Homo sapiens: one gene and its partners. The protein of the gene in region 7 interacts with the protein of the main gene of each other region in a pairwise test. Each region holds a gene or a part of one and is shown on either strand. Other genes may lie near its edges. The genes, in order: ITGB2, NDRG1, STEAP1B, STIP1, LRIF1, ATXN3 and FOXD4L6.

Region 1 (3,500 bases), on a different chromosome or scaffold from region 7:
GGAAGCTGGGCGCCATCCTGACCCCCAACGACGGCCGCTGTCACCTGGAGGACAACTTGTACAAGAGGAGCAACGAATTCGTAAGTCCCCACCCCAGGCACCCAGGCACCGCCTGGCAGGACACCACTGACGGAGGAGACAAGGGTGGGGTCTCCACCTGACAGAGCCTCCTTCTGACCCAAGGAGCAGATTCCTGAGGAAACTTCTGGAAGCCCCAAGTGGCAGCGTGGGGTCTCCCCGGACTGGCCTCAGGCCAGGGGAGGGTAGGGTTGGTGGGGGCAGCCAGGCTGAGGCCCGGCCTCGCCCTTGTGGGACACCCAGGCTCTGTTGGTCTCCAGCCCCACTGCCCCCCTACCTGGGCTGACAGCTGCTGTGGAGGTATAGTAACCGCCCCCAGGCTACGGCTGCACCCTGCCGTCCCCGCCTCTGGCCAGGGTCCCATCCCCAAGCATCCGCCTCCTCCCCCTCCCGGCCTCCACTGTACGTTCCCTGCTGCCCCTGAGTCCGCCTCCTCCAGTGTGGCCCCTCCCTGCCCCCATTGCCTGAGCTGGGTGAGCGGCTGCGGGGACCATGAGGAACATGCAGGGAGGGACAGAGGCGAGAAGGAGCCCAGGATGCACGGGTTAGGATGAGCCTCTCTGCGGAGGCATCTCAATGGCTCAGAGGGGCCAGGACTTCTGGCTGGGATCAGCCGTGGGCCGAGAGGCAACCACTGGTCACAAGGGGCTTGTCCTCGCTGGCCGTAGTGCGACGCTCTTGCAGCCTGACGTTGTAGGCTCTGGGGGCCGCAAAGGACTTTAGAGATACAAGACTCAGGTCCTCCGCCGGGAGCCACAGACGGGAGGGACGGCCCTCGGGTCCCGGAACTCGGGTAGGGAGAGCCGCACCTGACACTCATGGCCTCTACCGAAACTGAGTGTCCCTCAGTGCGAAAGCAGGTCCACCGTGTGGGGAAGGCTGGGATTCTGCCCCCGTGGACATCCCCAGTCCCACGGTGAGACGCCTCAAATGCTGCTCATGCCTGGACTCTGAAAGCCCGAGTCTATGCACACATTGCCCAGAGGGCGTGGCAGCTCTCTGCCCTGCACTCCTGCGTGGCAGCCTCTGCCTCTCCAGCCTTCCCCAGAGAGGGTTCGAAGCACGGGCAGGGCTGACGCTGAGCGGGGCAGACAGGGGCGGGTACCTGGAAGCCTTGTCCTGGACTCGGGGCCAACTGAGCAGGACCTCCTCTCTCCAGGACTACCCATCGGTGGGCCAGCTGGCGCACAAGCTGGCTGAAAACAACATCCAGCCCATCTTCGCGGTGACCAGTAGGATGGTGAAGACCTACGAGGTGAGTGCTGTTGGGTCCCGAGCATCCATTGGGTGGGGGCATGTTTCAGCCACAGGCCAGACCCAGCGCCACTGCAGGTCTGAGCGCCACCTCTGCATGCTGGGCACGTGAGCAACCAGCCGGCCCAGGTCCTGGATCCCCCTAGGTGAGGAGCCCGAGGCTTCCCGTCGGGGACAGGACGCCTGCGTGTCGATAGGAGGAGGAATTCCTCCCCGTCCCTGAAACTCAGCTGTGTTAACAGCATGTCTTGGCATTGGTGATATTTCTGTTTTTTCCTGGAATACAACACAATTCTTTATTTTATGGAAACACACTTATTTTATGCTCACATACATTTGAACATCAACACTCTCCGTGAAGATAAAATTACACAAAAACGTTCACAAGCTTGGAGTGCGGAGTGGGATGAATTTCACGAAGGAAGCACAGCTGATAACCAGCCTCTGCTCCTAGAAAAAGAGGCCCCCAGTGAAACACGTTCATCCTGCATTTCCGCTGCTAGTGCCATGTGTTCAGCCTGAGCAGGTCAGTGCGTCAAGACGCTCAGGTGCTGTTGGGGTTCCCAAGACCTTTCTCAGGATCAGTGATTTGCCGGAAGGACTTGCAGAGCTCAGGAACCAGTAAACTCACAGTTACAGTTTATTGCAGAGCCGACCCTCCTGGGTGCCAGCCGCTGCCCGAGGTGGGAGGATACAGACAAAAGTCAGCAAAGGTCAAAGGTGCACAGGAGAGAAACCAGGCACCAGCTCCCAGTGTCCCCTCCCTGCAGGGGTGTGGGCGGCGCTCCATCCTCCCAGCGATGATGTGTGGCCTCATGCACAGAACATGGTCCCCAAGGAGGCTCTTGAGCCTCGGTGTCTACTGGGGGTCAGTCACAGCGGCGCGGCTGACACCCCATGGCTGACCTCAGTCTCTAGCCCTCCAGAGGTCAAGCTGAAAACTGTCCAGGGCCCCACCCCAAATCACACTGTGGGACTATCCGGTGTGACCTGAGGCCCCAGGAACAATGACACCCCCATCGGGTAGGATGTACCAAGGGCTCAGAGGCTACCTCTCAGGAGCTCAGCCGGGGTCTACCACTCTTTGGCATGTGTGGGGTGTGGCCAGCCAGGCCTGCTGGGTGGAGCCCTGACTGTGTAACAGGGATTCGCTAGAAGGAAGGAAACACTGCACGCCCTCCTGAAAGGAGCCTCCGCCCATAGCAGCCTGCACAGTGTGTGGCCCTGAGGCCACAGGGACAGAAGGACTGAGCTGGAGGAAGGAGGTGGTTGTCATTGTACTTTACACAGCCACGTGCCCCGTTCTTCAGGGTGGAGCTGGAGGAACGAGATAGTTGTCATTGTACTTTACACAGCCACGTGCCCCGTTCTTCAGGGTGGACAGGGCCCTGGGTGGCTCACCTCACACCCAGCTCTGTTACTTACCACAGGACGCCCCAGGCCCTTCCTTACCCCGAGCCCTCAGTTTCCTCATCTGTGAAAGGGGTAGTGGTGCCCGGCGGGCAGTGCGTCGTGGGTACTGAGCTCACCCACTCAGGGAATTCACAGAGCAGCCGCCCTAAAGGGCCCGATTATCCTCATCCGGACAGTGACCGACCTGCTGGCCATTCCAGGGCCATCACCGCCATCTTCTTCAAAATGGCACGCAGGAAACCAGGGCCCCCTCTTCCCCCTGCCTGGGGCTCTGCCCAGCTGGGCAGCCTCACAGCCCCTGCCCTGCTGCTTAGGCTGAGGAGACATACTCGGGGTTTGGGGAAGGAAAGTGCCCGGGAGGGCCGCTGCTTTTGTAAAGTGAACATTTGCTGAACTACAGGGATCCATTGTCAGGCCCGTATCCCAGCTACAAGCTCAACCTCGTGGTGTGTTGGGGCCGACAGCGAGACCAGCGGTTCCTGCCATAGGTTCCCCGGGCTCTGGAGTGGGAGCAGGACCCTGCGGGAGACACGGGATGGGGGCAGGTGTCTGGGGGACCCTCCGAGTGGGCACCCAGAGCTGGTCAGGCTGCCGGGACAGTGGGTCAGCGCAGGGCAGGGCTGGGGCCGGACATCCACAGAGACCACCTGCTGGTCAGGATGTCACAGCCCTGTGTCCCATCTGTAGGTGGCCATGACGGTCCCCTCCTCACCAGCAGTAGCAGGTCCCAATCCTTTGCCATTTGTCATGGCAGC
Region 2 (3,500 bases), on a different chromosome or scaffold from region 7:
GGCTTCTCTGTGTCATCCCCAGGTACATGTACCCCTCCATGGATCAGCTGGCTGAAATGCTTCCTGGAGTCCTTCAACAGTTTGGGTAAGAGCGAAGGATCAGCTCCTTCTCTGTCTGCAGAGAAGCCTGGTTTCTAGCATCTTCCTGCCCCTTGGCTTTGATCTGGACTGACCACTAAAATTAAGGTTGCAATTTAGAGATGAGGCAAGAAATTAGCTCGTCACTCTGTGAACACTGTTCTTCACACAGTCTCTGAGCTCTAGTCTGTCTCCTCTAACTTCAGTTTTCCTCTTGCGTGAATGTTATATTGCATGATGGCAGCTGCCCCACCCATTTGCTCTTGCCTCCTGTTCTTCCATTCCCTTCTCTTTCCCATGGAATGTTCTGGAATGGAGTTGCCTGAGTCCTTAGCTTTTCTCTCCACACCCTCATTTTTCCAGTGTTCCTCTCTGTCTTGAGCTCTTCAAAGAATGATAACTTCATGGTTCTTGCTCAATTTGTTTTCATTCCAAGTTTTAGAATCCAAAATAAAGCTTAAGAGTGGGAAGAAATGATGCCGTAACGGGCCTTCCCGTAAATGTCAGACGGTCTCTCAGAGCCTGGGTGGCGGCCAGGAGGGAAGTGAGGAGAAGGGGCGCGGCTCTCCAAGGTCGAGGTCTCTGTCCAGTCCTAAAGCATGGTGACCTCAGAGCTGTGCAGGCAGTTACGGCAGCATGCTCCCGCATTGCCTAGCCAGGCGGTCACCCTCAGGAAGTTCTAAGTGGGTCCTTGGAGGCTCCCGTCACTCTGTCCTTGTGTGACATGCATTTGTATTTTTGCTTCCAGGCTGAAAAGCATTATTGGCATGGGAACAGGAGCAGGCGCCTACATCCTAACTCGATTTGCTGTGAGTGCTTTGGCATTTTTTGAAAATCGCATTTTAAATAACATTTTAAGATGAAGGAAGACATTGGAAAAGCATCAAAAACCCAAAAGGGAAAAAGAAATGACCCGTATTCTCCACAGTTGTGTGTGTGTGTGTGTGTGGTGCATGGGTACTCGTATATATATATACTCACAGCCTTTTCTCTTCCTCCACTCAAGGATGATACTGGACACATTCCTTTGTCATGGGCTTTGTCCGCTTAGCCATCTAGTGAGGACGCTCCTCACTCACTGAGTACTCTGCTATGACACTGCTTTGTAACAGCTGTACAGGTTTTTGTAGTCAGGGCACTCCTGGGTCATAACTGATTCTAAACTAGAATCAGACACGGGAAGTTTTCATGACAGTTGTCATTGTTATTTCTCTGGGCTCAGGTCAAGAGCCACTGTTCCTTTGTATCCTCACCGAGCAATTGTGTAAGAATGCAACAATACTCATTTTGTACATCCATTGGTATTTTGACTACCTATTATTTGCTGGGCTTTGCTGGAGGTTGGGAATACTGACATGATTCTACAACATCCATCTTACAAAAAAAAGAAAGGAATGCTGACATGAATACAAAATGGTCTGGCCATATAGGCTCTCAGCAAATTAAAAATGGTCTCAACTGTACCCCAGGTGTACATATCTATATCTGTATGTATCTGCATCACATAATGACATTTTGGTCAATGACAGACTGCACATTTGACAGTGGTTCCATAAGATTATAATGGTTCATTTTTACTGTACCATTTTTATGTTTAGATTTGCTTAGATACATCAATACTTAGCATTGTGTTGCAATTCCCTGCAGTATTGGGTAGCGTCATATGCTGTACAGGTTTGTACAGCAAACCTAGGAGCAAAGGGCTGTTCTATACAGCCTTGGTGAGTTGTAGACTATACTGTCTAGGTGTGTGTAAGTATACTCTGAGATCTTCACACAATGACAAAATCTCCTAATGATGAATTTTCTCAGAAAGTATCCCTGTTATTCAGCGATGCATAACTCTGTCTCTCTCTCTGTGTGTGTGTGTGTGTGTGTGTGTGTGTGTGTGTATGCATGTGTTTATCCTGGAAGTAAGTAATACAGTTGTTACTGCCACAACTAGAGAGCATTTGTGCTGTGCGCCTTGTTTGATTGATGAGGTCGATGGTGTGTTACACCCATTTGATAGCTGGAGAAGCTGAGCCTCCGTGGGTTGAAGTGACTTGCCCAAGGCAGGCCTGCAAAGCAGCGGGCTTCCTACTTCTCCTGCACTTCCTCTTTCTCCTTCCCACTCTCTCTAGGACCCGATACCGTGTCTGCTGTGCTGGAACCTCAGTTTTGCATGGGGTGGGGCCGGGGAGCAGCAGCCTGCTCTGCTGCCCACACTGCCTTTTTCTGGGTACTTCTCTCAAGCTTTGGTTTGCCTTGGAAAGTTCCTAGTGTTTCAGATTGCTGGGATGTCTGTCTCACTTTGTGTCTTGAATTGCAGCTAAACAACCCTGAGATGGTGGAGGGCCTTGTCCTTATCAACGTGAACCCTTGTGCGGAAGGCTGGATGGACTGGGCCGCCTCCAAGGTGAGGTGGGGGCCTGTCAGGCCGGCGGGATCCCTGCAAGAAGAGGGACAGGTGCACACAGCCTCTGCCTGGGGGATCCCTGGAGCTACGAGCTCTCTCTTTACCCACTCCTCCACTACCCTCTACTGCCCACTCCAGTTCCCTCTGCTTTACTTAGAACAGTACACATGACCTCAGCCGTTTGCCATTCAGAAGACTTAAATACCACCAAGCTGTCTAAGCCAGGGAAAGCACTGGGACACAGGTCCCTGAGGCAGCTTGGAGAAGCATTGCTTGGATTAATGAGTATTAGCTGGGTACATAACTTGTGCCAGGCTTTGGTCAAGATGCTGAGCATCTTGAAGAACAAGACTTCTTGAGATGAACAAGACAAAAGCCTCTAGGAATGAATCTTAGGAATCCATTCACATATTATTAAAGAAAAATAAATATGTATTTAGTACGGACTGTGCCACAGAATTTTACGATAATAATTAGCTAACGTAGATTGAGAGTTTACCATGTGCTAGTTTCATTCTACGTTGCTGTGTGTGCATGATCTCAGTTAATCTTCATAGTAACTCTAGGAGGTGAGAATTTTTATCACCGTTTCAGAGGTAAGGACTCGGTGTGGCTAAGGGGATTGTCCAGGGTCACATAAAGCTAGGCAGTAGAACGGGGACTGGATGCAGCTTGCTTTGACTTTGTGGTTCGTGGACCTGACCACCCGTGCCCCTGGGGCTCCTGTCCAGGGTGGGAGACAGGCAGGCCTGGCAAGCAGGGTAGGCTGCCTGGAGGAGAAGGGACCTGTGCTGTCTTGGGAAGCTCTGTCCTGGCTGGTGTCCTAAGGTTCCTTGTTTATCTTTTAAAAATTATCATTGTGGTGTTTTTGTTTTTGTTTTTTTCCCTGTAAAGGCCTCAGTGTTGGCCAAGGAGAGGGGGAGGTCATTCCAGTTGAAATAGGACAGAGTCTTTCAAGCTGAGGTGATCGCAGCTTCTCATTCTGCAAGTGCATTTTTGCCCAATTTTGGGTGGCTGCCAGGGA
Region 3 (4,166 bases), on a different chromosome or scaffold from region 7:
TGTCAGTCCACGGTAATTTAATCTTCAAAGGGCTTTAAACTAATCCATGGAAAGTCAGTGACTACAGAAAATGCTTATATTAAAACATGAACAGTCTTCGGTGCCCTAGCTGTGAATAAAAAACAATCATGGAAAATGTGGTTGCGCGTTTATTTTCCTTTGTGTTTTCTACTCAGCTTAGTCCTGAGAATGTTGTATACCAAATCCCCAGAATTTTGCAATTCATGTCTCAGACCCTATCTCGAGGCTGGTTCCAACGGAGAGAAGTAAATCCCCTGCTCAAGTTGTCTTTTTCTAAAACCTTGGAATATTAACAGTTAACTTTACTTTAGGTTTGGAATACTTCATTGAGCTAGGATATGGGAAGCTGCACTTAAAAGCTGAGGCAAGGAAGGGAGGGACGGAGTAAACATGGGGTTTAAGGGTTTTTTTTTTCGGCTGGGGAGCAGGGTTTGTGCGATTAAAGGTACACAATTTGAACAATTCAGGGAGCAAGTCACTCTCAGAAATTCAGCTTCGGATTCCTCAAACTGTCAATCACAGCCACTTCAGGACCGGCTGTTAGGTTTTAAATAAGGTGGCTGGGCGCGGTGGCTCACGCCTGTAATCTCAGCACTTTGGGAGGCCGAGGCGGGTGGATCACGAGGTCAGGAGTTCAGGACCAGCCTGGCCAAGATGGTGAAACCCCCGTCTCTACTAAAAATACAAAAATTAGCCGGGCACAGTGGCAGGCGCCTGTAATCCCAGCTACTCGGGAGGCTGAGGCAGGAGAATCGCTTGAACCCGGGGCCGGAGGTTGCAGTTAGCCAAGATCGCGCCACCGCACTCCAGCCTGGGCAACAGACTGAGACTCCGTCTCAAAAAAAAATAAAATAAAATAAAAATAAATAAGCTAACGTGTGGGAGGGTTTGTAAGCTCTAAACGGTCTATCTCAAAGTGTGATCTGGGAATGCTTCCATATCTCATGGGAACTTGTTAGAAATGAGAATCTCAGACCTCATCCCAGACATACTGAACCGGAAACTGTGGGTGGACAGCCCAACAATCGGTGTTTTAATATGCCCCCGGGTAATCTTATACACGCTGAAGTCTGAGAACCACTGCTCTAGAGAAATGCACAAACGTTCCTTAGTGGAGATTAAACAAAAGGCGAGGGGTTGGAGGGCGCGAAACGGACCTCAAGGGCAGGGCAGACGGCATTTGAGAGGAAACTGGGAGAGGCCGGAGTGCGACTTGGGGAGTCTTAGCCTCCAAGGACGTTCCCGAACCCTGCGGACGCGGGGCGCCAGCAGGTGGCGCTGGACGCGCAACTGACAAGGAGGCGGGGCCTGCAGCAGGCTTGGAGGCTTCGCGCTCTGGAGGCTCAGGCGCCGCGTGGGGCCGGCACCTCCCGGCAGCAGCGGCAGCTGAGACTCACGGTCAAGCTACGGCGAGGAGTGGGTGAGTCCCTTGAATCGTTCTCACTGGCCGTTTGCTCCTCGAGTCCGCCTGCGTGTCCCTGCAAGGCTGGGCGCCCGCTCCCAGTCTTGGGAGGGGTGTAGCGGGTCGCAAGCCTTCTCGTGACCTGGACGGCGGCCCTCCTGGGCGAGCGGTGCTCAATTCTTCGCTTATGCGCGGCTCTGGGGCGCCCTGTCTTCCAGCCCAGCTGGGTTGTGGCCGGGCCGGGGGCTGGGGGGAGCCAGGGACTCAGAGGAAGCCTTTTCGCTAGGGGCTTAAGGTTGTGGTAGATTATTAAGTTTGTGCTCAGGTTGGATTTTGATGGCAAGTTTTTTAACGTGGCAAAGTCGCCAGAGTTTGCTGTGCATTGACGAATGACTGGTGCACAGTACTTAAAATCGTGCTACTTCTCGTCTTCGGGTTTCCTGGTAACAGAGGTTTTCATTTTCAGTCCTTAGAACACTGGCCCTACTCTTTCAGGATCTGGGTGGGGTTCAGGTTCCCTCCAAAATAGTCAATCAAGGCTTTAAATATGTAATTCTGGTCAAATCCACTGGAAGGAGTTTGTAGACATAAATTTTTTGTACACTTCCAAATTTCTTACTTTGTTACTTTTGTAAAATACATTTCCCTCCACATCCTGACGTGTAATAAAAGGTTATTCATTTAACATGAATGTTAAGCACAGAGGGAAAGCAATGCTTAAAAAGAAAAACAGCACAGTGAAAAAAAAACCCAAAAAACTCGACTTCACTTAGTTAAATGTAAAACAAGTGTGCACTTGAAAGTATAAAAGGTTGGAAATGCAGTGCAACCCACAATGTATTCCAGGCATTGGGTTTCTTCATATTCTCAACTGCGGGACATAAACATGAGTCAGTTGGGCTGTGCCAACATTTAGGAACACCAGGGCAGCCATCTTGGTACAGCAAAACAGCAGTCGCATTAGAAATGTGCTCCACTTTTTTAAAAGCGGGTGAAAGAGAACTTTGGGTCGAATTCTGGGGTTCCTAACATTTTAACACTAGGTTGTTTTCTGTTATTTTTCTTTTTATGAAAAGATTTTACTGTAGAACTTAAATTACATTTTGGTTAATGTCTGATGAAAACCAACAAATTTATTTGACTCATAGTTTATTTTCCTGGCTTATGGGCATAGAGTTGAGTGTGGGCCACACAGTCAACAAGCTTCCTCACTGTCATGGGCTTTTCCTTGGCTTCGCTCTTGAGTGTGGTCTCCTTACCATGCAGACAAATGGCTGGGTAACTCTCCAGGGCCACTCTGGTTTTCCACCCAGACTCTTTGTAGTGGCAATCAGTCAGCAAACACTGCCAACCTGCTAGCTACCCCAGGACTGGGTCTAGAAGACAGCGCTGAGCCTTTTCCTCTACTTCCCTTCCCATGCCACCATCTGCCTATAAAACTTTATCCTCTTCTAGGATACATCGCTCTACCATGCAGTTGAAATGCCTGCCTTCTCTCCTAGACCTCAAGGTTTTTCAGAGCAGAGGCTTTATCTCATTTAACTTTGCATTCCTCCTGCCTTACATTGTTGTTCACAATATAGTTACTGAATTCATACTGAATAAATGTGGGTGGATTTGTTAGCATCCTTACCATCCTGCACCTCTCAAAGTTAAAAGATCTTCTAAACATAGTGGATTATTTCTTACATTTGATTATAGTAGGTGACACTTCCATTCCTAGCACCTCCCTCCCCCACCCCACAAACTATTAAGTTGGTGATATGGTTTGGAGCTGTGTCTCCCCCTCAGATCTCATGTTGAAATGTAACCCCCAGTGCGGGAGCTGGGGTCTGGTGGGAGGTGATCGGACCATGGGAGCAGTTTCTCATGGTTTAACACCATCCCCCCTTGGTGCTGTTGTCACGTTAGTGCAGGGGTCCCCAACCCCCTGGCCGCAGACTGGTATCAGTCAGTGTCCTGTTAGGAACTGGGCTGCACAGCAGGAGGGGAGTGGCAGGCCAGCGAGCATTACTGCCTGAGCTCCACCTCCTGTCAGATGAACGGTGGCATTAGATTCTCCTAAGTACATGAACCCTATTGCAAACTGCACATGCAAGGGACCTAGGTTGTGTGCTCCTTATGAGAATCTAACTATTGCCTGATGATCTGAGGTGGAACAGTTTCACCTCAAAACCCTATCCCCCTTCCCCTACTTGGAAAAATTGTCTTCCACGAAACCAGTCCCTGGTGCCAAAAAGGTTGGGGACCACTGCAATAATGTAAGACGCCTGCTCCCACTTCACCTTCCACCATGACTATAAGCCCTCTGAGGCCTCCCCAGAAGCAGATGTTGCCATGCTTCCTTTACAGCCTATGGAACCATGAGCCAATTAAATCTCCTTTCTTTATAATAATTACCCAGTCTCAGGTATTTCTTTATAGCAGTGCGAGAACAGCCTAATACAGTTGGTTAAGTCACCAAATGACTTGGAATAATGCTGTTAAGGAGATAGAGTGTCATTTCCTCCAGAGCAGGCATGAGTGTCATTTCTATTTTTCCTCTTTAATGTTGGTCACAGAGTTGGGTTCATAAATACTTGATGATTGGCATATGCTTTACTCAGAATTCTTTTACATGCCAGTGGTGAACACCCAAATCACACTAACTTAAACCAAAAAAAAAGGGAATGTGTTGACTGTCTAACTGAAAAATTCAGGATCTAGTTTCAGGGACTCTAAATACTGAAATATGCCACCAGGA
Region 4 (3,500 bases), on a different chromosome or scaffold from region 7:
CCCACCTTCTTCCTGTGAGGGGTGACTAGGGCTGTGCTCTGTTTGTCATTTGGATGCTTTGGAAATCTGTGGCAAATGAATTGACTTTTCCATGGAAGGAGCATGTGGCACATTCTGGAGTGGCTTCGTGAGCTCCATGTGGAGACCGGAAGAGTGGCAGAGCCCTCGTTCGTCACATGGGGGCCAGCGTGGAGTGCAGCCTGGGCTCTTTGCCCCTGCTTATTTTTTCTTTGCTGGCTCCTTAGGGAAGGTGTGAGAAATTAAATAAATGAACCGGTTTTCTCTCTTCTGATCTGTAAAGTCACCTATTTATTTGTTGGTAACTACATGAAAGAATGAGTGTTGTCTTTAAAGCTTGGGATTAAATGGGCACATCATAGAGAAGCTGTGTGTTCCTTTCCCCTCAGGTCAATGAGCTGAAGGAGAAAGGCAACAAGGCCCTGAGCGTGGGTAACATCGATGATGCCTTACAGTGCTACTCCGAAGCTATTAAGCTGGATCCCCACAACCACGTGCTGTACAGCAACCGTTCTGCTGCCTATGCCAAGAAAGGAGACTACCAGAAGGCTTATGAGGATGGCTGCAAGACTGTCGACCTAAAGCCTGACTGGGGCAAGGTCAGCTGTGGGCAGTGGAGGGAGAGAGGCCCTTCAGACCCTTCCAGAAATGCCTTTTGGTGGCCTGAGGTTTACCTGTCCTGATACACTGATAGTTACCTACCCACCTCCCTGTTTGAGTATCCTCCTCAGAAATGGCATTTTTCATCAAATCTAAGGTAGCCATTAGTTGTAATACAGGCTTTATTTTTGGTACTAAGAAGGAAGAGGCCAGGGCTGGGCGCGGTGACGCACGCCTGTGATCCCAACACTTTGGGAGGCTGAGGTGGGCGGATCACTTGAGGTCAGGAGTTCAAGACCAGCCTGGCCAACATGGTGAAACCCTGTCTGTACTAAAAATGCAAAAAAATTTAGCCAGGCATGGTGGCATGTGCTTGTAGTCCCATCTACTCAGGAGACTAAGGCAGGAGGATCACCTGAGCCTGGCAAGCGGAGGTTGCAGTGAGCTGAAATCGTGCCACTGCATCCAGCCCAGGTGACACGGCAAGACCCTGTCTCAAAAAAAAAGGAAGAGGCCCGGTACAGTGGCTCACGCCTATAATCCCAGCACTTTGGGAGGTTGAGGCAGGAGGATTACTGGAGCCCAAAGGTTTGGGACCAGCCTGGGTAACATAAGGAGTCCCTGTCTTTACCAAAAAAATAAGGGAAAAAGTGTTGCCAAAGAAACTGACCACAGTCGATCAGAGGTGAACAAGGCGGGGCGGATGTGCCTCTGCTATTTGGATGGATCCTTACAGTAGCAGCCTTGGCCTCGTAGCCTACTCCTCTCCTTTTTTTCTCTTTGGCCTTCATGTGAATACTCATTTTTCCCCCATAAAAGTAGAATTGTTCTTTTTTGAGTTCGTCTTCTAGATTTACCTCTGGGTGTTCTCTATTTTGTGTCTGTCTTTGGTGGTTTAAGGGCTATTCACGAAAAGCAGCAGCTCTAGAGTTCTTAAACCGCTTTGAAGAAGCCAAGCGAACCTATGAGGAGGGCTTAAAACACGAGGCAAATAACCCTCAACTGAAAGAGGGTTTACAGAATATGGAGGCCAGGTTGGCAGGTAGGTACCACGCACAGTTTTCTTTCTTATTATTAATGTGATTAATTTTGAGTCTTCACCCCTGAGAAATGTCAGTCTGGTAGGGTATGGGACACAGTAATTCTAGTGAACTCATTTCATAGTGATGTGCTTTCCTTTATTTGGACAGAGAGAAAATTCATGAACCCTTTCAACATGCCTAATCTGTATCAGAAGTTGGAGAGTGATCCCAGGACAAGGACACTACTCAGTGATCCTACCTACCGGGAGCTGATAGAGCAGCTACGAAACAAGCCTTCTGACCTGGGCACGTAAGTGGACGCCGCTCACTGAGGTTCTGGAAATCGGGGAATGTTATGCTTTCTTCCTGTAACCTCACAGCAGAGGGTTCCCTGGTCTAAACTGCAGAGTTTTTGCCTTTGCTTATTCTCTGCAGAGCAGTAGGTGGTGGTCGTTTATTTGTAATTATAGAAAGGGTCAGGGGAGCATATTTCACAGTAATCTAGAATGTTCTTTGTCATCTGTATACACCTCTCTCCTGCTCTTCTAGAACTCTGATCTAGCGTCAACCCCATCCTTTCCATCTACTTAGGCCCTACTTTCTCTGTTGGTATATCAGAGTGGAAACAGGGTTGAAGTTCATGTGTAAAGATGTGTCTAAATCTTGTACTGGTATTCATCTCTATCAATCCTCTGGCTCCTGAGATCAGCTACGGAAGTATACCTAAAACAACTCATTCCTCTGTGTATCTGCTAACCTTGAGGAATAAACTTGACCTCTGTGACTTCATTTTATTTTATTTTATTTTATTTTATTTTTTCAAGATGGAGTCTCGCTCTGTCCCCTAGGCTGGAGTGCAGTGGTGTGATCTCAGTTCGCTGCAACTTCCACCTCCTGGGTTCAAGCGATTCTCCTGCCTCAGCCTCCTGAGTAGCTGGGATTACAGGTGTACGCCACCACGCCCAGCTAATTTTTGTATGTTTAGTAGTAGCGGTGGGTTTCACCATGTTGGCTAGGCTGGTCTCAAACTCCTGACCTCAAGTGGTCTGCCCGCCTCGGCCTCCCAAAGTGCTGGGATTACAGGTGTGAGCCACCGTGCTCCGCTATCTGTGACTTCATTTTATTTGTTTTTGTTGACTCTATTTTAGATAGTGTTTTGACGGTTTGAGTATTTCTCAATTGTAACTCATGAGTGGTGCAAAATCTAGCCATCTTTTGATGGGTGAGGAGCTTCTAAACACAAGAATCTGACTTTAGTAGTAAGTGGGAGTTAAAAGACTAATTGTGGGGAGGAGTAATTACAATTTTTCTTTATTTTTTTAAATCAATACTAGGAAACTACAAGATCCCCGGATCATGACCACTCTCAGCGTCCTCCTTGGGGTCGATCTGGGCAGTATGGATGAGGAGGAAGAGATTGCAACACCTCCACCACCACCCCCTCCCAAAAAGGAGACCAAGCCAGAGCCAATGGAAGAAGATCTTCCAGAGAATAAGAAGCAGGTCTTGTTTTTTTCTCTCCTCACTGTCACCTATCTATAAACAACTAGAAATCTTTATGTTGAATGGGGACATCTGTTGACCTTGATTGACCATGATTATTATGGTTTTTTTAGAGACGGAGTCTTGCTGTGTTTCCCAGGTTGGTCTTGAACTTCTGGCCTCAAGCGATGCTCCTGCTTCAGCTAGGATTACAGTCACGAGCCACTGTGCCCACCTAAAACTATTTTGAGTGCTTTAGTATGCGCTAAGCTTATGGCTATTATTCATTAGAATGGCCAGCATGTTAAAAAATCAGCTTCAGGCCAGGCACGGTGGCTCATGCCTATAATCCCAGCACTTTTGGAGGCCAAGGTGGGC
Region 5 (3,500 bases), on a different chromosome or scaffold from region 7:
CTCAGCTCACTGCAAGCTCCGCCGCCTCCTCACTCCATTGTCCTACCTCAGCCTCCTGAGTAGCTGGGACTACAGGCGCTTGCTACCACGCCCGGCTAATTTTTTTTTTTTTTTTTTTTTTGTATTTTTAGTAGAGATGGGGTTTCACTGTGTTAGCCAGGATGGTCTCGATCTCCTGACCTCGTGATCCACCTGCCTCGGCCTCCCAAAGTGCTGGGATTACAGGCGTGAGCCACCGCACCTGGCGAATTGTTGCAGTCTTTAAGGAAGAATGTCTTGAAGGAGAAAAACAGGGTCAAGAAATGTGGGATAGTTAAAGGAGAATGCTTAGAATGCAGAAAATGAGTAAGGGAGCATTAGGAAAGTCAAGAGAAACAGAGGTTGTACACAGTGGAAACTATGATAGGTAAGAGGATCAATATGGAGGGATAATTAGTTGCAACAGAGAGGTACCTAGGGAATGAAGATAAAGACAAATTTAACTGTGAGAACATATTTGGTAATCTTTGAGAATGAAGTTTTAGTAGAATAATAGGAAAGAAAATAGACTGCAGAAGAAAGTAGGCTTCAAGATAACTTTCTGGCATATCACTTAATTGCAGCTTGTTAACACCATCTACCAACTTCCTGTCACTGAACTTGGCGCTTAGTTCACCATCTAGCTCACCATCTTCCCTCATGTGATTTCAATATCCGTATGGATAATCTCTTTGTCACCTCATCTTTATTACAGAGATCTTTTCCCCCAGTGATCTTATTCTCTGTTCTGTTGCACCTATCTACTTTTGTAGTACTTATTATTAGATGAAATTGCTGCATCTACGAAACTGTTTCACGCATCCTGTTTTCTAAATGCCAGTTCCTGTATTTCTAGCTGAGTTGTTTAACTGTTCCTACTGTAACTGTTAACTTTATCTGGCCCTACAGACCAATAATCCCTTTATTTTATCCCTATACTTTAGCCTTTTATTCTCTCATTTTCTTCCTATCCAGTTTAGACTCTGTTTCATTTTAATAACTCTTATCAATACCTTAAATTCTTTTGCTCTTCTTTGATTTTTTTGTTGCACCTTCCTGATGCCACCCCAACCCTGGATGAACTCAGTATGCTTTCTCTTTATCTGTGCTTGGTGTGACAAGAAAAATCTCGAGTACAGATTAGTACCACTATAAATTCATAACCACTACCTGTCTCCCCATGCCATCAACACATCCTGGCAACTCTAATATCTTCTGTGGTCAGTTTACTCCTTCACGAAGACTGTTCCAATCTTTGATTATCCTCAAATCTTTCCATATTTTTGCTCTTACTTTTAGCAGATGATGTCATGTGATTTTTCATAAAGAAAATAAAACCCATTAAATGAGAATTACCTCAGCCTCCTAACCCCAAAGTTGTATGCTTACCTGAAAATGCACATAATCTCTCCTCCAGTGTTGCAATGGAAGGAGATAGGTCTCCAGCTCTCTTTAAGGTTGAGTCCCTCCACCTGTCTCTCTGGTTTCCATTTCCTGCCTCCTTCTCATTGTGTATCCCTTTTGTTCCTTTATTACCAGTTTCTTCCCTGAACTGGCTCACTTGAGTATTTACATATGTTCTGGTTAATCTAACCTTAAACAAAGAAAAAGGAAAGATCCCTTCTTTGATTCCATTTATTCCTGTAGCTTCCTGCCAGTCGTTCTCTTCCCCTTGACAGTCAAAGTTTAAAAAGAGTTGTCTACTTGCTTCATACCCACTCCTCAGCAACTTCTTTCCCCTACCACACTGCTCTTATTAAAGCCATCAGTGATCTTCACAGCACTGTTTTCAGTGTACATTTTTAATCCTTATCCTATTTGGCATCTCAGAAACTTTTAGTATAATTGCCCAATTTTCTTAAAATCCTCTGTTCCTTTGGCTTAACATTGCATCAGAAGCAATGGTTTTCTTCCTACGACTCTAAGAATAATGGAAGGCCACTGCAATGTTTTAAGCAGGGAAAGATCAGTTTTAGTGTGCTGAGTAAATTGAAAGGTAGAAGATATGATTGGAGAAAAAAATCAGTCATGAAGCTATTGTAGTATTCTAAGCCAGAGATGATGTTTGCTTGGAGTAGAGTGGTAACAGTTGATTTGGAGAGAATTGAACAGATGAAAGGAAATTTAGGAGACAATATCAACAGGATTTTGTGATCACTGAATATAAGGAATAAGAAAGGAGGATTTATCTATTCTGACTTAAGGCACCTAAGGTAGATGAGATGCTATTTAGCAAAGAAAACCCTGCAGAAGATGGAACTTGGGGGGATTAGGATGGGCAGAGATCTGCTGGCCATGTTGAATTTTAGGAACGTTTGAGATTCTGAATGAAAATGTTAAAAGGGAATTTGGATGTATAAGCCTAAATTTCAAAGAAGCCACAGATAGAAATATTGAAATTGTTCATGCGTAAGTGATAATTTAATTGAAGTTATGCATTGAGAAGAAAGCATCTAACAAAAGAGTACAGAATAGGAAGAGAAGGATTCTTTCTAAGCTTTGGTAAACTCCCAACATTTGAAAGTTGATTCAAAAGTATGAGTTGGCAAAGAAGACTGAGGAGCCACTACAGAGGCTACTGTTACTCTTTTGATTTTTAAAAATCAATTAAAATATAAGAATGCACAGAAACAGAGTGGGCCAGATTAGGCCCAGAGGCTACAGCTTACTGACCCTTTTTTCCTGATGAGCCTGGTGCTTAACTTAAAACAGACACTTGGTAAATTTTTGTGTAATGACTTAATATTGAATATGTTCTTATCCAGGTCAAATGTGCTTTTCTTGTGGTGCAGGGAGGTAATAAAGGTAGATTTTTCCTCTTAAAACCCTGAAAGCAAGAATTCATCCTTTTCTTTGGGTTTATTCTCTTTAGAAGTTAACTTTTAATTTATTAAAAGTCAGTGTGTGACCAGCCTGGACAACATAGCAAAACTTTGCCTCTATAAAAAATACAAAAATTAGCCGGGTTTGGTGGCGTGCATCTGTGGTCTCAGCTACTTGAGAAGCTGAGGTAGAAGGATAGCTTGAGCCCAGGAGGTGGAGATTGCAGTGAGCCAAGATTGTACACCTACACTCCAGTCTGGATGACAGAGCCGGGCCCTGTCTCAACAGCAACAATAACAAAATGTCAATGTAATATTTTGACCCACTCTCACGTGTCCAAAAGACTTTTAAATTTTTGTAAGGATATAATAATGTTATTCGGGCTGCAGAAAGGTAAACCAAATTTCTACGGATACATAGAATTTTGGGTATTGATTTTTATTAATACCTGAGAGTTTTAAAAACATACCTTTATGCTTTTGAGAATCCTAATTATTATCGTTATTATTTGCCCTTGAACTTTTGTATTTATTTGATCTTAGTTATCTAAGACCATGCTAGGTCTATGGTATATGGATGCTGCACTCATATTGGTAGAATATAATATGAGAGACAGTCTATAGACAAACATATTAATATATGATGACAATCTATGATAT
Region 6 (3,977 bases), on a different chromosome or scaffold from region 7:
CAGCCTGGGGGACAGAGAGAGGGCCGTCTCAAAAAAAAAAAAAAAAAAAGTACACCTTAATCTGGTTTCAAGGTGCAAGATCTGCACCTATCCTTCCATTTAAGTTTCATCAAACCGCTGCTACCTCCCCGTCTCCCACACAATTTATGGGACTTCTAAGTTCCCTCTAAAGGGTCCGAACACCTACACTGGTAACAAGCCACCTGGATTTGAATCCTGGCAAGACAACTTACTATCTGACCTTGGACATTGTGCTGTTCTTAACCTCTCCGTGCCTCGGTTTCCTCATGTGTATGAATAACATCAACACCTACATCAAAGTTTGCTGTATTAAATTTGATAATATATGCAAAGCATTTAGAAAAGTGCCTAGCTCATAGAAAGCCTTATGTAAATATTAACTATCATTTTTTTTCTTTTTTGGGGTGGTGGGGGAGGGGTTTCGCTTTTGTTGCCCAGGCTGGCGTGCAATGGCACGATCTCGGCTCACCACAACCTCGGCCTCCCGGGTTCAAGCGATTCTCCTGCCTCAGCCTCCCGAGTACCTGGGATTACAGGCATGCACCACCACGCCCGGGTAATTTTGTATTTTTAGTGGAGACGGGGTTTCTCCATGTTGGTCAGGCTGATCTCAAACTCCCGACCTCAGGTGATCCGCCCGCCTCGGCCTCCCAAAGTGCTGGGATTACAAGCGTGAAGCACCTCGCCCGGCCTAGCTATCATTTTTATACAAGTGCTGGGTTTTGGGAGAATGTAATGATGGCTTTTTTCTTACTAAACTTTCAGTGCAGGAGGAGGAGAAAGAAAGTAAATAGTTATATGAACACAGTAGAAAGTCAAAGTGGAAAACAAAAAGAACATAGAACCCAGGTGAGCGGTCCAGACCTCCCCCCAGAAACCTAAGAATCCATAGAAATGGGTGGGAAGCGGAGAAGATCCTCCAGACAGCAGGTGGCGATGTAGCATCCCCCAGAAGGCCCGCTAACAGAAGCTAGGAGGACGCGCTACCAAGGTCACGTGTCCCCGGCGTTCACTCGCTCTTCGCTTCACGACACTCGCATCCTCACGGGTGATTGGTCTGCGTGCGGCACGTGGGCGGGGTACCGGGGCGGGCCGGGGAGGGGCGGGGTGGGCGGAGGAGAGGGGCAGGGGGCGGAGCTGGAGGGGGTGGTTCGGCGTGGGGGCCGTTGGCTCCAGACAAATAAACATGGAGTCCATCTTCCACGAGAAAGTGAGTGTCCGCGTTCGGTGGGGAGCTGTCTGCCGCGCGGTGGCGGGCGTGGAGCGCGGCATCACCGCCTCTCGGAGGGCTGGGTGGGGCCCGAGTCGCCCCCATGCCGATCTCGCCCGGCGAGGGGCGACGCCGCAGCCTCCCGCCTCCTCGGCTCGAGGAGGGGAGCATCACCTACGCCCCTACTTCCCCCGCGGCCCCCGCCCTGGGAGCCGGGAGGGAGTATGGGCGGGGCCGGGGGCGTCTCGGGACACGGGAGTGGGGTGGCGCCCAGTGGGTTTGCTTCTGCCTTTCTCCGTCACTTTCCATCGCTTTTCGGAGGATTCCTTCACCCCTCCCCAATCCTTCCCTCTCCCTAGGGTCTAGCTAGAGTCATCTCTGGGACACCTCCCTCAACCCCTCCTACCCTAATCCTGGCAGAATTAACTTTTCCTCCTCCGGACTGCTCAATTCTATATTGGAGTCTTCCCTACACGTAGATCTTTGGGGTCTTGTTCGTGTCTTTCCCCTGCACTAGGTCCGCGAGCCTCCCGAGGGAGGAGACCTTGGCTCGCCCACTGTAGGGCCTGACATTTAGGAAGTGAAGTAGGAAACCCGGCGTGCCCCTAAACAGGGAAGTCGTCACAAGAGTTTTTATTACGGGATGTTTGGGTTTGGTTTCTTTTGGTACTCCCATCTTTCCGGAGCAGGCGGCCAGCTTTGTTTTTAGGTATTAGGAGTGGACTGGGATGATTTTGTTGTAGTCTGCCTAGCCTGCTGTCCCTTTAACTCTTCCGTGACCATGCACTTGAAGATACTGTTTGTGATATGTAAAGAAACTCCTCGTTTCTCTCATACTATTATCCAGCCATTTGTGTGTGAGTGAAGCCTTCCCCAGGACAGCTTTGGCACATGGTATCATGTTTCATAATAGTTTCGTGTTTGGAAAGAGTTGCTGGTAAGGCTGTTATTTAATAGGAGGAGCAAAGGGTTTTTGTTTTATTAAATACTTATAAATGATCATTTATCCCAGACATTTAAAATTCACACACACACAACAAATAAAGCAAAGACAAAAGAATACATTTACCAAATGTAAATCTGTAGCATAAATTTTTTTTAATTTTTATTTTAAAGATGGGGTCTCATTCTGTCACCCAGGCAGGTGTGCAATGGAGAGATCATGGCTCACTGCAGCCTTGATCTCCTAGGCACAAGCGATCCTCCCGCCTCTGCCTCCAGAGTAGCTGGGACTACAGGTGCATATCGCCAGGGCCAGGTAATGTTTTTGGGAGAGACGGGGTCTCGCTGTGTTGCCCAGGCTGGTCTCGAACTCCTGGACTCAGGTGATTCTCCCACCTCGGCCTCTCGAAGTGCTGTGATTACAGGCGTGAGCCACTGTGCCTGGAACAAATTGTTAAGTACAATGCTTTTCATTGTAGAAAACATCTCGGAAACTTTTGAAATAGGCTGATGTTCAGTGGGGGAGGAAGGACTCAGTCGTATAGTTGTCACTAATTTTTTGACTTGATTGACATGACTCGTAAATCATAGACAATAGAGATTTGGTTGCTTGGCTGAGTAGAGTGCGTGAAAAATACACACGTACTTTTTTTTTTTTTTTTTTGAGATGGAGTTTGGCTCTTGTCACCCAGGCTGGAGTGCAATGGCGCCATCATGGCTCACTGCAACCTCCGCCTCCCCGTTCAAGCGATTCTCCTGCCTCAGTCTCCCCAGTAGCTGAGATTACAGGCGCCCGCCACCACGCCCAGCTAATTTTTGTATTTTTAGTAGAGACAGGGTTTCACCATGTTGGCCAGGCTGGTCTCCAACTCCTGACAGGTGGTCCGCCCGCCTCGGCCTCCCAAAGTGCTGGGATTACAGGCGTGAGCCACCGCACCCGGCCATATTTTTGTTATTAATTTTCAAAGGCTTTGGTGTGGGACCACATTTCAACATGGAAGGCCTTAAACATGTTCCACACTACTTCCTGAGAATTAGACAAGATTTTTAACAATATTGTTACCTAGTTGGGACACATTTGTACTGACCCATGGGATGAAAAAAAGCTGAGTGCTAGCCTAGTGAAAATCTACTTACCCGAAAGAAATCCCTCTTAGTCTGGGTGCAGTGGCTCACACCAGTGCTTTGGGAGGCCCAGACGGGCGGATCATGAGGTCAGTAGTTTGAGACCAGCCTGGCCAACATGGTGAAACCCCGTCTCTACTAAAAATACAAAAAATTAGCCAGGTGTGGTGGCAGGCGCCTGTAATCCCAGGTACTCTGGAGGCTGAGGCAGGAGAATTGCTTGAACCCGAGAGGCAGAGGTTGCAGTGAGCCGAGACCGTGCCACTGCACTTCAGCCTGGGCAACAGAGCGAGACTCCGTCTCAAAAAAAAGAAAAGGAAAAAAGAGTCCCTCTTAATTATCAGCATGTGTATAGGCCTACAGATACTTCAGGAATACCTTTACCATTATCATCAACTTGTATCTACATAGCATGTGAAGATTCAACAATTTAGTTTTTTGGGCGTCCTCAAGAGTACGCACCTATAACCATATGGCCCAATTGTTAATCTCCTATACAGTCCATTCTGGGAATGTTTGGGCTTACTGTGCCATTTTTCCGTTCACTGCCTTCCCCTCTGCAATATACCTTTAACCCTTGCTAGGTCCTGGGTTTGGAGAGCCAGAGAACCAACTTTGGCCCTAAAGAAGCTGTGTAGGTAGCAATATCTGCCTACGAAGGGCCTTGCAACCATTTCCT
Region 7 (4,123 bases):
TCATTGAAGTCCCAAGTTTTATTACAGTAAAAGCACTTAATGTTGACATTTCTGAAAGAATGAAGAGGCTGGGCATGGCGGCTCACGCCGGTAATCCCAGCACTTTAGGAGGCTGAGGCAAGCGGATCATGAGGTCAGGACATCGAGACCATCCTGGCTAACACGGTGAAACCCCGTCTCTACTAAAAATATTAGCCAGGCGTGGTGGCGAGCGCCTGTAGTCCCATCTACTTGGGAGGCTGAGGCAGGAGAATGGCGTGAACCCAGGAGGCGGAGCTTGCAGTGAGCTGAGATCGCCCCACTGCACTCCAGCCTGGGCGACAGAGCGACTCCGTCTCAAAAAAAAAAAAAGAAAAAAAAAAAAAAGAATGAAGAGCCAGAGCCAGGCATAGTGGCACGCCTGTAGTCCCACCTACTCAGGAGGCTGAGGCGGGAGGATCACTTGAGCCCAGGAATTCAAAGCCAGCCTGCGCAACATAGACCCTGTCTCTAAAAATGAATTGGTTATAAAGGATGAAGAAAGGAAGGAGGAAAGGGAGAGAGAGAAGCCCTTATAGAGTGGGTGCATTTCTTGTATGTGGGGCCACTTTGTAAGAACAGGATTTTTCAAACTGGGCCCATACTGGTATGTGTGAAATCAATTTAGTTGGTTATGGCCATTTTTTTTTAAAAGGAAATATCAGTGATCACTATAGTGTAAGTATATTGTTTCGTGAAACCCATCTTAGTTATGTATTATGTCTGTATGTGTGAGATTGTGATATAAAATGTATTTCTGTGGTTAAATATTCAAAGAAATTGGAGAACCATTGCTACAAGGGGACAGAGGACTCCGTGTGAGCTCTCCTGCCTTCCCTGAGTAAACTTACACAATTTAGTGCTGGGACATTTGAGCCTTTTCTGAAAATTTGAGTCAGGGAGAGCATCTTGAGGAGGTGGGAAGGAAGGTAGAAGGAGCAAAGCAACACCCCCCTGAAGCCTGGGAATATTGTCAGAACCTTAAATATAATTCAGCTCACCATTCTGGGTAAGGGCAGACTCTACCAATGAAAATGGGTGATTACCAGCTGTGAAACACAAAAACATACTTTTACGGTTACACATTCCTTTACAAACAACCGTGTACATTTCAGCCTCCTGCCCCACCATTTCTTTTCTCCAGGCGGGAAGGCTGCATGTTGAGGTGGTCATAGAATGTTGAGTATCATACTTTCCTACCTCGCTTTTATTTGCGCGGGTTTAAATGCGCCTTAACAGAACCCGTGCAAAGGCTTGCCAACTGTCTGGCTGCACCGGATGAGTAGAGCATCTTCCTTGGTGGCAGGTGGGTGCGAGGAGGAGGGGGCTGGGCTTTTCTCCGGACGGGTGTTTGCCCAGAAGACCATCATCCCTGGACTACGTTAGGAGGAAGTGGCACCGCTCCGAGGTAGGGGAAGAAGGGTTATAAAGGGGGGAGTCCACCACACATGGTCTTGAAGAAGCTTTTATAAAAGGCAAAGGCATCTTTGCCGGACGTTGTTGCAAAGGAGTAGAAACAAGCAGACGAAAACATCCCAAAGGGTAACCACTAGCGTTCCTGCTTCTTGCAACATTCATCCCAGGCTTCCAGCTCAGCCCGCCCCAGGCTAGGTGATCGGTCGCCACATCCCCTGCGACTGAAGCACCTGCTCCTCCATGAACCTGCCAAGAGCTGAGCGCCTTCGCTCCACACCGCAGCGCAGCCTCCGGGACTCCGATGGGGAAGACGGTAAAATCGATGTCCTGGGAGAGGAGGAAGATGAAGACGAGGTGGAAGACGAGGAGGAGGCGGCGAGCCAGCAGTTCCTAGAGCAGTCGCTCCAGCCGGGGCTGCAGGTGGCCCGGTGGGGCGGGGTTGCGCTTCCCCGAGAGCACATCGAGGGCGGCGGCGGCCCGAGCGACCCCTCAGAGTTTGGCACCAAGTTCAGGGCACCGCCAAGGTCTGCGGCGGCCTCTGAAGATGCCCGGCAGCCGGCAAAGCCCCCCTACTCGTACATCGCGCTCATCACCATGGCCATCCTGCAAAACCCGCACAAGCGCCTCACGCTCAGCGGCATCTGCGCCTTCATTAGTGGCCGCTTCCCCTACTACCGCCGCAAGTTCCCCGCCTGGCAGAACAGCATCCGCCACAACCTCTCGCTGAACGACTGCTTCGTTAAGATCCCCCGCGAGCCGGGCCACCCAGGCAAGGGCAACTACTGGAGCCTGGACCCCGCCTCCCAAGACATGTTCGACAATGGCAGCTTTCTCCGGCGTAGGAAGCGTTTCAAGCGCCACCAACTGACCCCGGGAGCCCACCTGCCCCACCCCTTCCCTCTACCTGCTGCACACGCCGCCCTGCACAACCCCCACCCAGGCCCTCTGCTTGGGGCCCCTGCCCCGCCGCAGCCAGTCCCGGGGGCCTACCCCAACACCGCCCCCGGGAGACGCCCTTACGCTCTGCTGCACCCGCATCCTCTTCGCTACCTACTGCTCTCGGCCCCCGTCTATGCCGGGGCACCGAAGAAAGCAGAAGGCGCGGCCCTGGCGACCCCGGCACCCTTCCCGTGCTGCAGCCCTCACTTGGTCCTCAGCCTTGGGAGGAGGGCAAGGGTCTGGCGTCGCCACCGGGAGGCGGATGCATCTCTTTCAGCATTGAGAGTATTATGCAAGGGGTCAGGGGAGCGGGTACAGGGGCTGCGCAGAGTTTGTCCCCGACCGCGTGGAGCTACTGCCACCTGCTCCAGCGACCATCAAGCCTGTTGCATCCCCAGACCGCTGCCCCTTTGCTGCAAGTGTCCGCCGCCGCCGCTGCTCGGACAATTTTGCAGCAATAGCAGCAGCATCAGGAGGAGGACTGCGCCAACGGCTGCGCTCCCACCAAGGGCGCGGTGCTGGGCGGGCACCTGTCGGCCTCGTCGGCCCTGCTGAGGTATCAGGCAGTGGCAGAGGGCTCTAGGCTGACATCGCTGGCTGCCCCTTTGGGCGGAGAGGGGACCTCACCAGTTTTTTTAGTATCGCCCACGCCCAGTTCCCTGGCCAACTCCGCAGGGCCCTCCTAGAGCCAGGTGGGAGTGGGGAGCGACCCGCAGCTGCTCACTTCACCTTGCGCGGCCCATTCAGGGCGTGTGCATCTGAATCCCGCTGGAGAGCAAACACGAACTTCTGTTCGCTGCAAAATGGTTAGAAAGAAACAGCTGGATTACGTTCCTCTAAAAACCACCTGAACGTAACCTTCGCAGGGCGTCAAGTCATCTTTTCTTGCCTTCGGTTGTGGCTTCTATGGCTGTCCCGATTTGCGCATTTCCTGGGGTACTATGAACGTGAGTGGGGTATTTTGTTCTGGCATTAAAAGAAAAACAAGCAAGCAAACAAAAACACAGCCTCCGATGCCAAACATGTTCCCCCTTCTTCACTTCCTTGGAGCTGGAAGTATTATTCCTAAGTCTAGTGCAAAATGCTTCTACTCTCTGTGTCTTCCTGATAGGGATGTTTAATGTAAGTAGGATATTAATTTCAGAACATTGATTTCTTATCTGTGTGTCTGACGTGCCATCTTTAATGTTAAAATTAAGGTGTTAAAATTAAGCCTAGTTATATAGACGAAATAAAATGCTAAGTCACTACACTACATCGTTTATTTTCTATTACATCTCATTCTTCCCTTTCTAAATGGAACTTTTTAAAACCTACGTTACTTTCCCTCAAACAATTTATTTTCACAATTCATATTTATTATAGATAGCAGAAGTAATCCATTTTAATATGGCCTTTAAAAATTCCAAATATTTGAGGTTGAAAATGTCCTGGCTTTTAAAATAGGAAATTTACTATTTATGAGACTTCTAAAAGAAAAGAATAGGAGGGCATGTAAATATATTCTCCATTTATTTTTCATCACCCCTCAACAAGCTGGAAAACCATTTGAGATCAATTTGGAATGTAGTGGCCAACATGTACTCAGAGAAAATAAAAGGCTATAAATTATATATATATATATATATTTTAAGCACTAGAATTTTCAAAACTTATTTCTTAAAAAAAAAACAACTCTGAAAAGACTTTGCAACTAGAAAGGTTTAAGTGTTACTCGGCGTCAGGGGACGGAGTGGGGGGAAACCAGACA

Evidence for each region.
Region 1: the proteins of FOXD4L6 (region 7) and ITGB2 interact in binary tests that used the Homo sapiens proteins (3 or more experiments, as listed by UniProt).
Region 2: the proteins of FOXD4L6 (region 7) and NDRG1 interact in binary tests that used the Homo sapiens proteins (3 or more experiments, as listed by UniProt).
Region 3: the proteins of FOXD4L6 (region 7) and STEAP1B interact in binary tests that used the Homo sapiens proteins (3 or more experiments, as listed by UniProt).
Region 4: the proteins of FOXD4L6 (region 7) and STIP1 interact in binary tests that used the Homo sapiens proteins (3 or more experiments, as listed by UniProt).
Region 5: the proteins of FOXD4L6 (region 7) and LRIF1 interact in binary tests that used the Homo sapiens proteins (3 or more experiments, as listed by UniProt).
Region 6: the proteins of FOXD4L6 (region 7) and ATXN3 interact in binary tests that used the Homo sapiens proteins (3 or more experiments, as listed by UniProt).

The regions. Positions count from the first base shown.
Region 1 is NC_000021.9:44,896,900-44,900,399, reverse strand, and holds part of ITGB2 (integrin beta-2 isoform 1 precursor), read left to right. Parts: coding exon 1-80; intron 81-1,237; coding exon 1,238-1,333; intron 1,334-3,500.
Region 2 is NC_000008.11:133,255,753-133,259,252, reverse strand, and holds part of NDRG1 (protein NDRG1), read left to right. Parts: intron 1-22; coding exon 23-85; intron 86-826; coding exon 827-887; intron 888-2,389; coding exon 2,390-2,476; coding exon of another isoform or gene 2,477-2,527; intron 2,528-3,500. UniProt on the Homo sapiens protein: Stress-responsive protein involved in hormone responses, cell growth, and differentiation. Acts as a tumor suppressor in many cell types. Necessary but not sufficient for p53/TP53-mediated caspase activation and apoptosis.
Region 3 is NC_000007.14:22,497,389-22,501,554, reverse strand, and holds the start of STEAP1B (STEAP family member 1B), read left to right. Parts: upstream 1-1,366; 5' UTR 1,367-1,441; intron 1,442-4,166.
Region 4 is NC_000011.10:64,192,671-64,196,170, forward strand, and holds part of STIP1 (stress-induced-phosphoprotein 1), read left to right. Parts: intron 1-407; coding exon 408-617; intron 618-1,518; coding exon 1,519-1,660; intron 1,661-1,808; coding exon 1,809-1,950; intron 1,951-2,974; coding exon 2,975-3,143; intron 3,144-3,500. UniProt on the Homo sapiens protein: Acts as a co-chaperone for HSP90AA1. Mediates the association of the molecular chaperones HSPA8/HSC70 and HSP90.
Region 5 is NC_000001.11:110,953,923-110,957,422, reverse strand, and holds part of LRIF1 (ligand-dependent nuclear receptor-interacting factor 1), read left to right. Parts: intron 1-3,500. UniProt on the Homo sapiens protein: Together with SMCHD1, involved in chromosome X inactivation in females by promoting the compaction of heterochromatin.
Region 6 is NC_000014.9:92,103,783-92,107,759, reverse strand, and holds the start of ATXN3 (ataxin-3 reference isoform), read left to right. Parts: upstream 1-1,177; 5' UTR 1,178-1,207; coding exon 1,208-1,231; intron 1,232-3,977. UniProt on the Homo sapiens protein: Deubiquitinating enzyme involved in protein homeostasis maintenance, transcription, cytoskeleton regulation, myogenesis and degradation of misfolded chaperone substrates.
Region 7 is NC_000009.12:41,125,935-41,130,057, reverse strand, and holds FOXD4L6 (forkhead box protein D4-like 6), read left to right. Parts: upstream 1-1,376; 5' UTR 1,377-1,674; coding exon 1,675-2,928; 3' UTR 2,929-3,623; downstream 3,624-4,123.